Linked DNA regions of Homo sapiens. The protein of the gene in region 1 interacts with the protein of each later gene in a pairwise test. Each region holds a gene or a part of one and is shown on either strand. Other genes may lie near its edges.

Region 1 (3,651 bases):
TTCTAAAATCCTGGCTCAAAGTCCGTGGGTTTCCTGTTTAAAAGGGGCGCCATGAAAATGTAAGCTATTCCCTTTTTCCTGGAATCTTTAAGAGTCCCAGCTTTTCAATAGTCAAAATGTAGATGATTGATATCATTTCTTATATGAATAGCACTGGTTTGTAGTTCAGCACGCACAGTGAGCTGGGCACGCCCACCTGATAGTATAGCAGAGAACTTGTTTACATTCTTTTTACATTCATCTTCTAAAACCTGGGGTGCTCTCTCTCTCTCTCTCTCTCTCTCTCTCTCTGTGTGTGTGTGTGTGTGTGTGCGTGCACGTGCGCGTGTGTGTAGAGGGGGAGAGAGAGAGAGAGAGAACTGTGAACTGTGAAATATAACACAGCCAGCAGCTTTGGGTCTCAATCGTAGACTTACTCTTAAGGAAATTTACAGAATGGAAAGGTCATGTTCAAGTAGTTTATTAACATTTTGAGATGTAGGAAATTAATCCCGGAGTACAGAAGAACAATTTCAGACTTCCTGAATAAAAACAGACAGCATAGAGAGTGGATGATAGCTAAACTCTGAATATCTTTTGAGAAGAAAGGCACTCCCATTTCAGGTGCCCATAATATGGATTTGATTTTAGTGATTAAAACATTAATTTTCAACTTGCATCTCCCTGTGTGGAAGAGTTCAATTTGTGTGAGGGGTCTCGCCTATCCAACAAAAGTGAATATGTCCCTTTTATAGGGTAATTGCTAACTTGTCTCAACTTGTTTTCAAACAATTGTTATAGAGCACTCAGTTTCCACTAATTGCAAAATTGTTGCTTAATTGAAGGACTCTCAGCCATCTAGTGCAGCCATTCAGCCACTGGCAGGCTCTGTGATCTCAAACTGTGAATTGCATTTTAAAGAGGAATCGAGGAGAGAATTCTGTGGAATTCTAGGTTTTAAGTGCTGGCTGTTGTTCAATGGAAGAGGAAATCATTTGAACAAGAATCGCATCAAGTTGTGTTGTGATAAATTTTCTTTATTAGGATGAATAACATGCACAGATGAGCTTCAAAAGTGAATGAGCAAACTTACTGGTTACACTCTGCATCCATTTACTCTGTTTAGTATGGAGTAATGTTAGGCAATAAATGATGCTGGCAAATGAAATCCGTATGTTATTTGCATGTGGTATTTAAACCTAGGAAACATAGAGTGGCTTTGGTATTTGTAGGCTTAGTCATGTGTGTCCTAAACGTCCTCTTAAACTTCTACTTAAGGCATAGAATTATTTAATCCTAAATAATTTTATACTTAAGTGCCTCACTGGATTTCCAGAATATTTACACTGTAAAGATTTAGAAAGGTCATGAACCCAATTATTGACTATATGGAATCATTATTGATGGCAGATGCAAAATGGAGCTCACTAATGTACTGACATTGAAAACCTTTTGCAGGGGAGAGGAGGGGGAGTGGTAAATGTGTGTGTTCTTTAAGTGGAACAGGAAGGTATTCTCTTTTCTGTAGAAAAATTTGAGTATCTGGTCAGATAAGTGTGGAAGCTTTCATTTAAATTAAGTATTTAAGTTCAAGTAGAAGCTCTAGGGCACTTATCCTCTTGATGAGACAAATCTTATCAAATATACTAGATGCTAAGAAGTGGCTCATTGCCCTGATGTCTCATTTATAGATTGATGTTTGAGGATGGGTTGCATTAAGTGAGTTAGGGGGCTGAGTGTGGGACAGGAGAACGATTGGAAGGAAGCAAAGTAAATTTACAAGCTTTAGTGACAGCCATAATAAAGTAAAAGTTTATTTCCAGAGAGCCTAGAGAGTAAGGAACGTTATATAGTTTTCCCCAAAGGTTCACTTGAAAGAACTTTTCATTGGTTGTCATGGTAGTAATGTCCTGATTTTGAAATCTCCCAGAACCTAGTAGCTCTTAAACATGCTTTCATCTTGGTTCCTTTGGTCTGACGGAAACTTTATGACGACCCTCTGTGTTTTTGACATGCCTCTGCATTTTTGGAGAGAGGAGGTCAGGCAAGGGAGGATTTCTTAAAACTAAGACAGTATAGTAAGGAAACATAAAATTATATGATAAAAAATCACTGAACTTCAAATTGACTTACTGAAATAAAACCTAGAAGGCAACCTGTCGTTTAATTACAACTAGCTTGTATAAAATTAAAATTTATAAAATGGGAATTCAAAGAAAATAAACGGGCAGTTCCAAGTAATTTAAGCAACTCACCAAAAATTGAAGTAATAGTGCCACCTAGAGAACAAAATCACCAGCTTTACTAGCCAAATGGCTTATTTCCATATGAACCATTTTTCCAACGCTACAGTTACTAGGATTTCCTTGTTACCATATTCAGATCTTGTGAGTGTGTATGGGGGTGGGGGTTGCATGTGGAATTACAGATGAAATTTTAAAACAAGCAGATCCACAATTTGATATATGCACTAAATCCTTTTAACGTTGTAATGTAGCCAAATGTAGAATAGCATGCCAGGAATCAACGGCTAGCATCCTTTTTAACATTTATTATTTTCATGGATATGTACCAAACCGAACCATTGAGTATAAAGGTTCTGATTTTATTTATTTGCTACAGGCAATTCATTATACTTTCTGAGATACAATAACACCAAATAATTTGAGTAGAGAGACCTTTAAGAATGTTTTCGATTTATGATCTACCTTTAACTTTAATGTACTCAGAAGATGTGAGAATAAAATAAAGTCAAATATAAGCAAGATTTTAAACACACACACAAAAAACAAACAAACAAGAAAAAGGAAGAAAATTATAAGGATTGCCTTAACCTTAGAATAGATGAAGGTATACATCTGAGCCAGCACCAAAAAAAAAAAAAAAAAAAGTTATGGAACCAGGAACCAATAATTACAAATTGACTTAAAATTCTTGGATGACAAAAATCTATATTTAGTTCATTTTTGCATGCGCCCACAACAGCATCCAAAACAGTTCTGGGGAGGCACTTTGATAAATGTTGCTGAATGCACTAATAGATTGATTAATGGCTGCTTCAGATTATCACTAGTGATGTAGACAGAAACTTCATGAAAATGGTTTGTCTTGCTGGAAGAAAGGCAGAAATTGGAGGAAAAGGTTTAATAATATTTTTCCCCAGTACCTATTATAAAAGTCATTTAGTTGGCTTAGTTCTATAATTTCTTATGTGTAATTTGATTCACTTATGAAATTGTGAATATATGAAATGTTAAAGTTGATTTAGACAGCAACTATAAGCTTGTGGATTTTCTTTTAAATGTCTTCAAATTTTTAAATGCCAGTGGAGATGCCAGCGACTGTGCTTCAGGGAGTAGAATATAGTATATCTTAAATTTGTGCCAATTTCTGGTAAGCAGAGAAAAAATTGCATGATAACCAAAGAAAGTCATATTGTTTGTGCTTTGTGTTATTCATGGAAGCAATCAGGTGCAGAAAACTTTCTTTTTCAGAAAAAAAAAATTACTAAAATAAAGGTGCGTGTGTGTGTATGCACATATATCTAAAGGGAGAGAGGGAGAAGGAAACTTACTAAATAAAATTTTTGCCACATGGGATTTAGTCTAATCAGTCTTGGTTTTGGAGTTGCTATCATCAGTAGTTCCATTTTGTGATTCTTTCTTTCTGCCT
Region 2 (3,651 bases), on another chromosome or scaffold:
CGCATCTTCTTTATCCTTTCATCTGGTATGGAAACTTAGGTTGATCCATATCTTAGCTATTGTGAATAGTGCTGCAAGAAACATGGGGTACAGATATCTCTTCAATATCCTGGTTTCCTTTCTTTTGGATATGTACCCATTAGTGGGATTGCCGGATCATATGGTAGTTCTGTTTTTAGTTTGTTTTTTTTTTTCAGAGATGGAATCTCGCTCTGTTGCCCAGGCTAGAGTGCAGTGGCACAATCTCAGCTCACCACAACCTCCACCTCCTGGGTTCAAGTGACTCTCATGCCTCAGCCTCCCAAGTAGCTGGAACTACAGGCGTGTGTCACCACACCCAGCTAATTTTTTGTATTTTAGTAGAGATGGGGTTTTGGCATGTTGGCCAGGCTGGTCTCAAGCTCCTGGCCTCAAGTTATTCTCCCACCTTGGCCTCCCAAAGTGCTGGGATTACAGGCTTGAGCCACTGCATCTGGCTTGCTTTTAGTTTTTAAAGGAACTTCCATACTGTTCTCCATAGTGGCTGAACTAGTTTACATTCCCACTAACAGTGTACGAGGAACACTTTCTCCACATCCTTACCAGTGTCCATTATTCCCTGTCTTTTTTATAAAAGCCATTTAAAATGGGGTGGGATAATATCTCATTGTGGCTTTGACTTGCATTTCTCTCATGATTAGTGATGTTGAGTACTTTTTGCATATATGTGAGCCATTTATGTCTTCTTTTGAGAAATATCTATTCAGATCTTTTGGCCATATTTTAATTGGATTTTTTTTATATTGAGTTGTTTGAATTCCTGGTACTATATATTCTGGTTATTAATCCCTTGTGAGATGAGTGGTTTCAGATATTTTCTTCCATTCTGTGGGTTATTTTTTCACTTTGTTGTTTCCTTTGCTGTGCAGAAACTTTTTAGCTTGATGTAATCCCATTTGTCTATTTTTGCTTTGGTTGCCTGTGTTTTTGAGGTCTTACACAAAAAGTCTGCCCAGACCAATGTCCTGCAAAATTTCCCCAATATTTTCTACTAGTAGTTTCATGGTTTTAAATCATATAAGCCTTTAATCTGTTTTGATGTGATTTTTTAATATAGTGAGAAATAGGGGTCTAGTTTCATTCTTCTGTATATGGATATCCTGTTTTTCCAGTCCATCTATTGAGGAGACTGTCCTTTCCCCAGAGTATGTTCCTTGTGCATTTGTCAAAAATGAGTTGGCTATAAGTGTGTGGATTTATATCTAGGTTCTCTCTTCTGTCCATTGGCTTATGTGTCTGCCAGTACCATGCTGATTTGGTTACTACAGCTTTGTAGTATATTTTGAAGTCACTATGATGCTTCAAGCTTTATTCTTTTTGCTCAGGATTGCTTTGGCTATTTGGGGTCTATTGTAGTTACATATAAATTTTAGAATTGTTTTTTCTATTTCTGTGAAGAATGACATTGGTATTTTGGTAGTGATTGCATTGAATCTGTAAATTGCGTTGGGTAAAATTGTCATTTTCATTGAAATTCTTCCATTCCTCAAACATAATGTATCTTTCCATCGGCTTTCATTTTTATTTCCCTAACCTCTTCTCAGGTGGCTGTCTAGGCTGCCTTTGTGTTTCTCCAGCTGAGCTCTTGTTCCCATCCTGTGTCAGTTTCTCCATGGTTTTCTCTGTAGGAGTTCTTCATTCTTTTTGCACACTTATCCTTTGTCTCTTGTATTGGGTCCAACTATTTTCTCCTAGGCTTTTGCTTGCTTTTAAATTTTATTTAGAAGTTTTGTCCTACAGAATATTTAAACTTTGATGTAGCTAAATTAATCATTTTTCCCCTTTGGTTTTTGCTTTCTATTGTGTGTGTGTGTGTGTGTGTGTGTGTCCCTTACCCTTAAGGAATTTAAATCCCTGATCGTGTGTGGGTGTGTGTGTGTGTGTGTGTGTGTGTGTTTCCCTTACCTTAAGGAGTTTAAATCCCTGATTTAGGTTCAAATTTTTTTCTGGCTGTCCACTTCCCTGGTTGCTCAGGACATCCAAGCCCTGCCTTTCTGGCAGAGGGAGCTGGGAAAAGTTAACCACCTCTCTTTGTTCCTGTCCATAAGCCTTGGGCGTCTGGGTGCCTGTAGCATTGCTCGGGTGACCACTGGCCTTGGCAAGAACAGTTTGCATCAGGAGAAGAGGAGGGGAGGTGAGAACACACTGTGGGCATGATTCTTTGTATAGTTTTGCCATGAAGAGGAGGAGGGGAATGAAGTGAGAGATAGCTTGACGTCAAGGCTGGGTTTATAGAGGCAGATCCTAGAGCAAGTTTCTGTTCTCATCAGATGATCCCACAGAGGTAGAGGGGAGAAACTGAGGAGGCAGGAGAGAGGGGTTCCTTGTAGGTGCGACCCCTTGAGAGGACCCTGGTAGGGTCCCAGGCCTAGGGGAGACACTGGCCTTTCTGGTGCTCTTTTAATTCTCTGTTTCCTCTTCTGCGTAAAGTGATCGTTAATAGTCTAGCCTTCCCACAGTCCCGTAAGGATTAAAGGAGGTAAAGGCATACTGCATAGGTCATCGGTAGCTGTGTCTGTTATTTTTTGAAAAGATTAGGGATCTGGCATTGCAGGGACCCCATGATCCCCACCCTGTTCTGCCAAGCATCCTTCCTCCTCATGGTTCTGGGGCTTCCACCCAGAGAAGCAGAGTGGGGCCTGGAGAGCCGGCCGATAGCTCAGCTCTGTGTGGTACGGGTTCCTCCCAGTGTGGGCAGGGTCCAAGTCCTCCTCCTCTCCTTTCTTCTCCACTAGCTGTCTCTCCATGATCTCCAGGCTTCCAGTGTGAGCCTGGCTCAGTTTTACCAGCATTGCTACAGAGGATGTGATAGGAATTTAAAGAAAATGGCTGGTCTGGCCTGAGGGGTCAGGCTGGAAGGTTGAGGACGAGAAGGTCATGAGGAAGGTGGAATGGGTTCTGCTGTTAGGACCTAAGGGATGCAGCAGTGGCCTTGCCTAGCCAGGAGAGTGGCCATTCCTGCCTGTGGGAGTGGGGTGGAGAGTTGGAGGGGCCTGGTGTGGTGAGAGGGAGGCATTTTCTGCCCCTGGCATTGGGCCCCTGCAGGTCCTTCAGGGAGGTGGGAGGCAGGTGGGAGTAGGCAGTTCCCATCTCTGTTTATTGCCTCTTGGAGCCACACCGGTGCCGCCTGGGCCCAGGTTCTCTGGGCTGGATGAGGGGCACCGTTCCTGCCACCGAGGGTGCCGCCAACTCGAGATGCCTCCCTGTGCCCTGTCCCCACTGCACATCACAGTCGCCCAGGCCGGCGGCTCCTTTGCTAACTCATCACCTGCTCCATTCAGGCCCCTGAGAAGGAAGCACGGAGGAGGCAAGAGGCGCCATGACTCTCAGCTTCTCCCTGCTGCAAGGCACAGTGTGGGGCACACATCCCTGTTCAGTTCTTCCGTCAGCTCCTCCTGAATCCATAAATTCCTTGGGAAAATGTTTTACCAGCAGTTGGGAGGCATAAGCCTACCACCTCATTCCTTACCTGAAACTGTGATTGACAAGCAAGGATGACAAGCAGGCATGTAGACATTTTACTGAACACGGGCCAGAGATGTATACTTTCTATCAAATAAAATCCAGGATCTAGAACATGGATTAAAAAAAACAGTGAGTGTGTGGGCCTGT
Region 3 (3,651 bases), on another chromosome or scaffold:
ACTGCAGGGGGCCCCAGGATCCCTGGCAGCCCAGCCTGGCCTGTGGTCCTGGGCAGTCCGCTTCCCCCACCCGCTGCTTCCAGTTCCGGGCTTTCCCAGCCGCCTCGCTGTGCTTTCAAAATCGCCATCAGCACAGCCCCCTCCTCCGACAGCCCGCCTGCCACTCTCCCCCGGGAGGGCTGCTAGCAGGCACAAGGGAGCCACACTTTTCATGCTGAGCGCATTAAAGTGCCGGTAAATTGCGCATTAACGAGGCGGGGTGAATTGGAGAGGGCTCCCCTGGGATTTGCTGCTGCTGGGCGGGCTCAGCTGGGAAATCCATCACTGGCTGCCCCAGGAGGCATCAGCCTGGAGTCCCCCCCCCCCCGCGGGGCTCCGATGGAGGGTCTCCCCTCCCGGCCCCTCCCTCCGCCGTCCTGCTAAGGAAACAGACAGGTAGCCTTTTTGTAGAAAAAAACTTAAGAGATAGGATCACTCGCCTTGCTTTCTTTTTTTGTTGTTTTGACGGATCATGCTCCGTCTCCCAGGCTGGAGTGCAGTGGGAGGATCTCAGCTCACTGCAACCTCCACCTCCTGGGTTCAAGTGATTCTCCTGCCTCAGCCTCCCAAGTAGCTGGGATTACAGGTGTGTGTCACCATGCCTGGCTAACTTTTATGTTTTTAGTAGAGACAGGGTTTTGCCATGTTGGCCAGGCTGGTCTCGAACTTCTGACCTCAGGTGATCCGCCCGCCTCAGCCTCTCAAAGTGCTGGGATTACCGGTGTGAGCCATCGCACCTGGCCAATTTCTTTATACTTTGAACATGGCTACTAGACATTCCATATGCATGACTATATTTATGTATTATTCCAATTCTACTTGTACTGGATGGTATTGATCTCGATTTTATTCTGTTTACTGAGAAACTACATTTAACTTCGGGATTGACAGTGGTCAGATGGCTTGATTTTTGTTGTTGTTTGTTCGTTTTAAATAAAACACCAGACTGGGTGAGGTGGCTCACGCCTGTAATCCCAGCACTTTGGGAGGCTGAGGTGGGCAGATCACCTGACGTCAGGAGTTCGAGACCAGCCTGGCCAACATGGAGAAACCCCATTTCTACTAAAAATACAAAATTAGCTGGGCATGGTGGCGGGTGCCTGTAATCCCAGCTACTTGGGAGCCTGAGGCAGGAGAATTGCTTTAACCCAGGAGGCAGAGGTTACAGTGAGCAGAGGTGGTGCCATTGCACTCCAGCCTGGGCGACAGAGCAAGACTGTCTCAAAAGAGAAAAAAAAATTACCACTGACTTGTTTCTATCAATTCTCCCCAGCAGGTAACCCTCAGTTTCTTAGTATCTTTCCAAAGTTTAAGCAAATTAAAACGTCTTCCTCACCTAGGGAGACCTAGGTATGCTGTTTTGCTGCTTGAAGCCTTTTTTTTTTTTTTTTTTTTTGAGACAAGTCTCGCTCTGTCACCCAGGCTGGAGTGCGGTGGCATCATCTCGCATCTGGGCTCACTGCAAGCTCCGCCTCCTGGGTTCAAGCCATTCTCCTGCCTCAGCCTCCCGAGTAGCTGGGACTACAGGCACCTGCCACCATGCCTGGCTAATTTTTTTTTTTTTTTTTGTATTTTTAGTAGAGATGGAGTTTCACCATGTTAGCCAGGATGGTCTCAATCTCCTGACCTCATGATCCGCCCGCCTCGGCCTCCCAGAGTGCTGGGATTACAGGCGTGAGCCACCGCACCCGGCCTGCTTGAAGTCATTTGAAGCAAAGTGTGGTGGTGGTCAGGTTTTCTTTTTAAAACATCCCAAAAAGAGTAGCTGGGGCCAGGTGTGGTGGCTCACACCTGTAATCCCAGCACTTTGGGAGGCCAAGGCAGGAGAATCATCTTAGGTCAAGAGTTCAAGACCAGCCCGGCCAACATGGTGAAACCCTGTCTCCACCAAAAATACAAAAATCAGTCTGTGTAGTGGCACACGCCTGTAATCCAGCTACTTGGGAGGCTGAGGCAGGAGAATTGCTTGAACCCAGGAGGCGGAGGTTGCAGTGAGCCGAGATCACATCACTGCACTCCTGCCTGGGCCACAGCGTGAGACTGTCTCAAAAAAAAAAAAAAAAAAAAAAAAAAAAAAAAAAAAAAAGATATATGCCAGGTGCGATAGGCCGGATGCGGTGGCTTAAACCTGTTATCCCAGCACTTTGGGAGGCACACGTGGGAGGATAGTTTGAGGCCAGGAATTCAAGACCAGCCTGGCCAACATAATGAGACTCCCATTTCTACAAAAAGTGTATTTAAATTAGCTGAGCGTGGTGGTGCATACCTGTAACCCCAGCTACTCAGGAGGCTGAGATGGGAGGATCACTTGAGCCTGGGAGGTTGAGGGTGCAGTGAGCTGTAATCGCACCACTGCACTCCAGCCTGGGTGTCAGAGTGAGATCTTATCTGCAAAAAAGTAGATGAAGGCTGGGGGTGGTGGCTTATGCCTATAATCCCAGCACTTTGGGAGGCTGAGGTGGGCAGATCACCTGAGGTCAGGAGTTGGAGACCAGCCTGGCCAACATGGTGAAACCCCATCTTTACTAAAAATACAAAAATTAGCTGGGTGTGGTGGTGTGCACCTGTAATCCCAGCTACTCAGGAGGCTGAGGCAGGAGAACCACTTGAACCTGGGAGGCGGAGGTTGCAGTGAGCCGAGATTGCACCACTGCACTCCAGCTTGGGTGACAGAGTGAGACTCTGTCTCAAAAAAACAAGTAGATTGATATACCTTCTTCTACAGGTGGGGATAATCATGCTGTAGGATTGCAAACCCTTAACTGCAACAACATTTAACTGTTTTGCTGCCAACCTCCTTCTAGATAGGAAACGTCTTACAGATTGTGGAGAGCTGCAGCCAACTCCAGGGTTTCCAGTCTGAGGAGGTGAGTTTCTGGGTCTTCAAGGAGGGGAGGGGACAGGCTTGGGTGAAGGCTCATCCTCAAAGCTCTCACTGCCTTGTTCCTGCCGGGCCAGGTCTCACCTGCTGAACCAGCCAGCCCTGGGACGCCCCAGCAGGTGAAGGACAAGACCCTGCAGGAGTCGAGCTTTGAGGACATCATGGCCACCAGGTCCTCCGACTGGCTCCGGCGGCCTTTGGGGGAGGACAATCAGCCGGAGACCCAGCTGTTCTGGGACAAGGAGCCTTGGTTTTGGCACGACACTCTGACCGAGCAACTCTGGCGGATTTTTGCCGGCGTCCACGATGAGAAGGCAAAGCCCAGAGACAGACGTGAGTGTCCCTGAGGGTGAGGGGGAAGGGGCAGCCACAGGCTGCGTCTCAGGGGCTGTGCAGTGAACCCTGCTGTTCTCTCTGTCCCCCTCCTCCTCTCCGTTGTCATGGTGACAGAGCAGGCACCAGGCCTGGTGAGTAAACAACCTCAGCTCTATCCAGAGGGGTGGGCTTCCGGGCAGGCGGTTGGGCTCCCCCAGGTCAGGGCACTGGGGTTCCTGTGGGATTTGTCTTCCTTCCATCCTGCCCCTCGGGTCCCCCGGGGGGGACTTGGGTGATCCAGGAGGCTATACTGGAGTAGCCCAGGACCCACAGCCCAGGGCTTCCAGGACCCTATACCCTGACTCTCTCTCTGCAACTCTGCCTGGACCCGCAGACAGGACCCCAGGCAGCTGACA

The links.
Region 2: the proteins of BDNF (region 1) and SLC41A3 interact in binary tests that used the Homo sapiens proteins (3 or more experiments, as listed by UniProt).
Region 3: the proteins of BDNF (region 1) and TLE6 interact in binary tests that used the Homo sapiens proteins (3 or more experiments, as listed by UniProt).

What each region holds. Positions count from the first base shown.
Region 1 is NC_000011.10:27,693,805-27,697,455, reverse strand, and holds part of BDNF (neurotrophic factor BDNF precursor form isoform a preproprotein), read left to right. Parts: intron 1-3,651. UniProt on the Homo sapiens protein: Important signaling molecule that activates signaling cascades downstream of NTRK2. During development, promotes the survival and differentiation of selected neuronal populations of the peripheral and central nervous systems.
Region 2 is NC_000003.12:126,077,496-126,081,146, reverse strand, and holds part of SLC41A3 (solute carrier family 41 member 3), read left to right. Parts: intron 1-3,651. UniProt on the Homo sapiens protein: Na(+)/Mg(2+) ion exchanger that acts as a predominant Mg(2+) efflux system at the mitochondrial inner membrane.
Region 3 is NC_000019.10:2,983,986-2,987,636, forward strand, and holds part of TLE6 (transducin-like enhancer protein 6), read left to right. Parts: exon of another isoform or gene 1-234; intron 235-2,843; coding exon 2,844-2,906; intron 2,907-2,997; coding exon 2,998-3,253; intron 3,254-3,370; coding exon 3,371-3,387; intron 3,388-3,651. UniProt on the Homo sapiens protein: Component of the subcortical maternal complex (SCMC), a multiprotein complex that plays a key role in early embryonic development.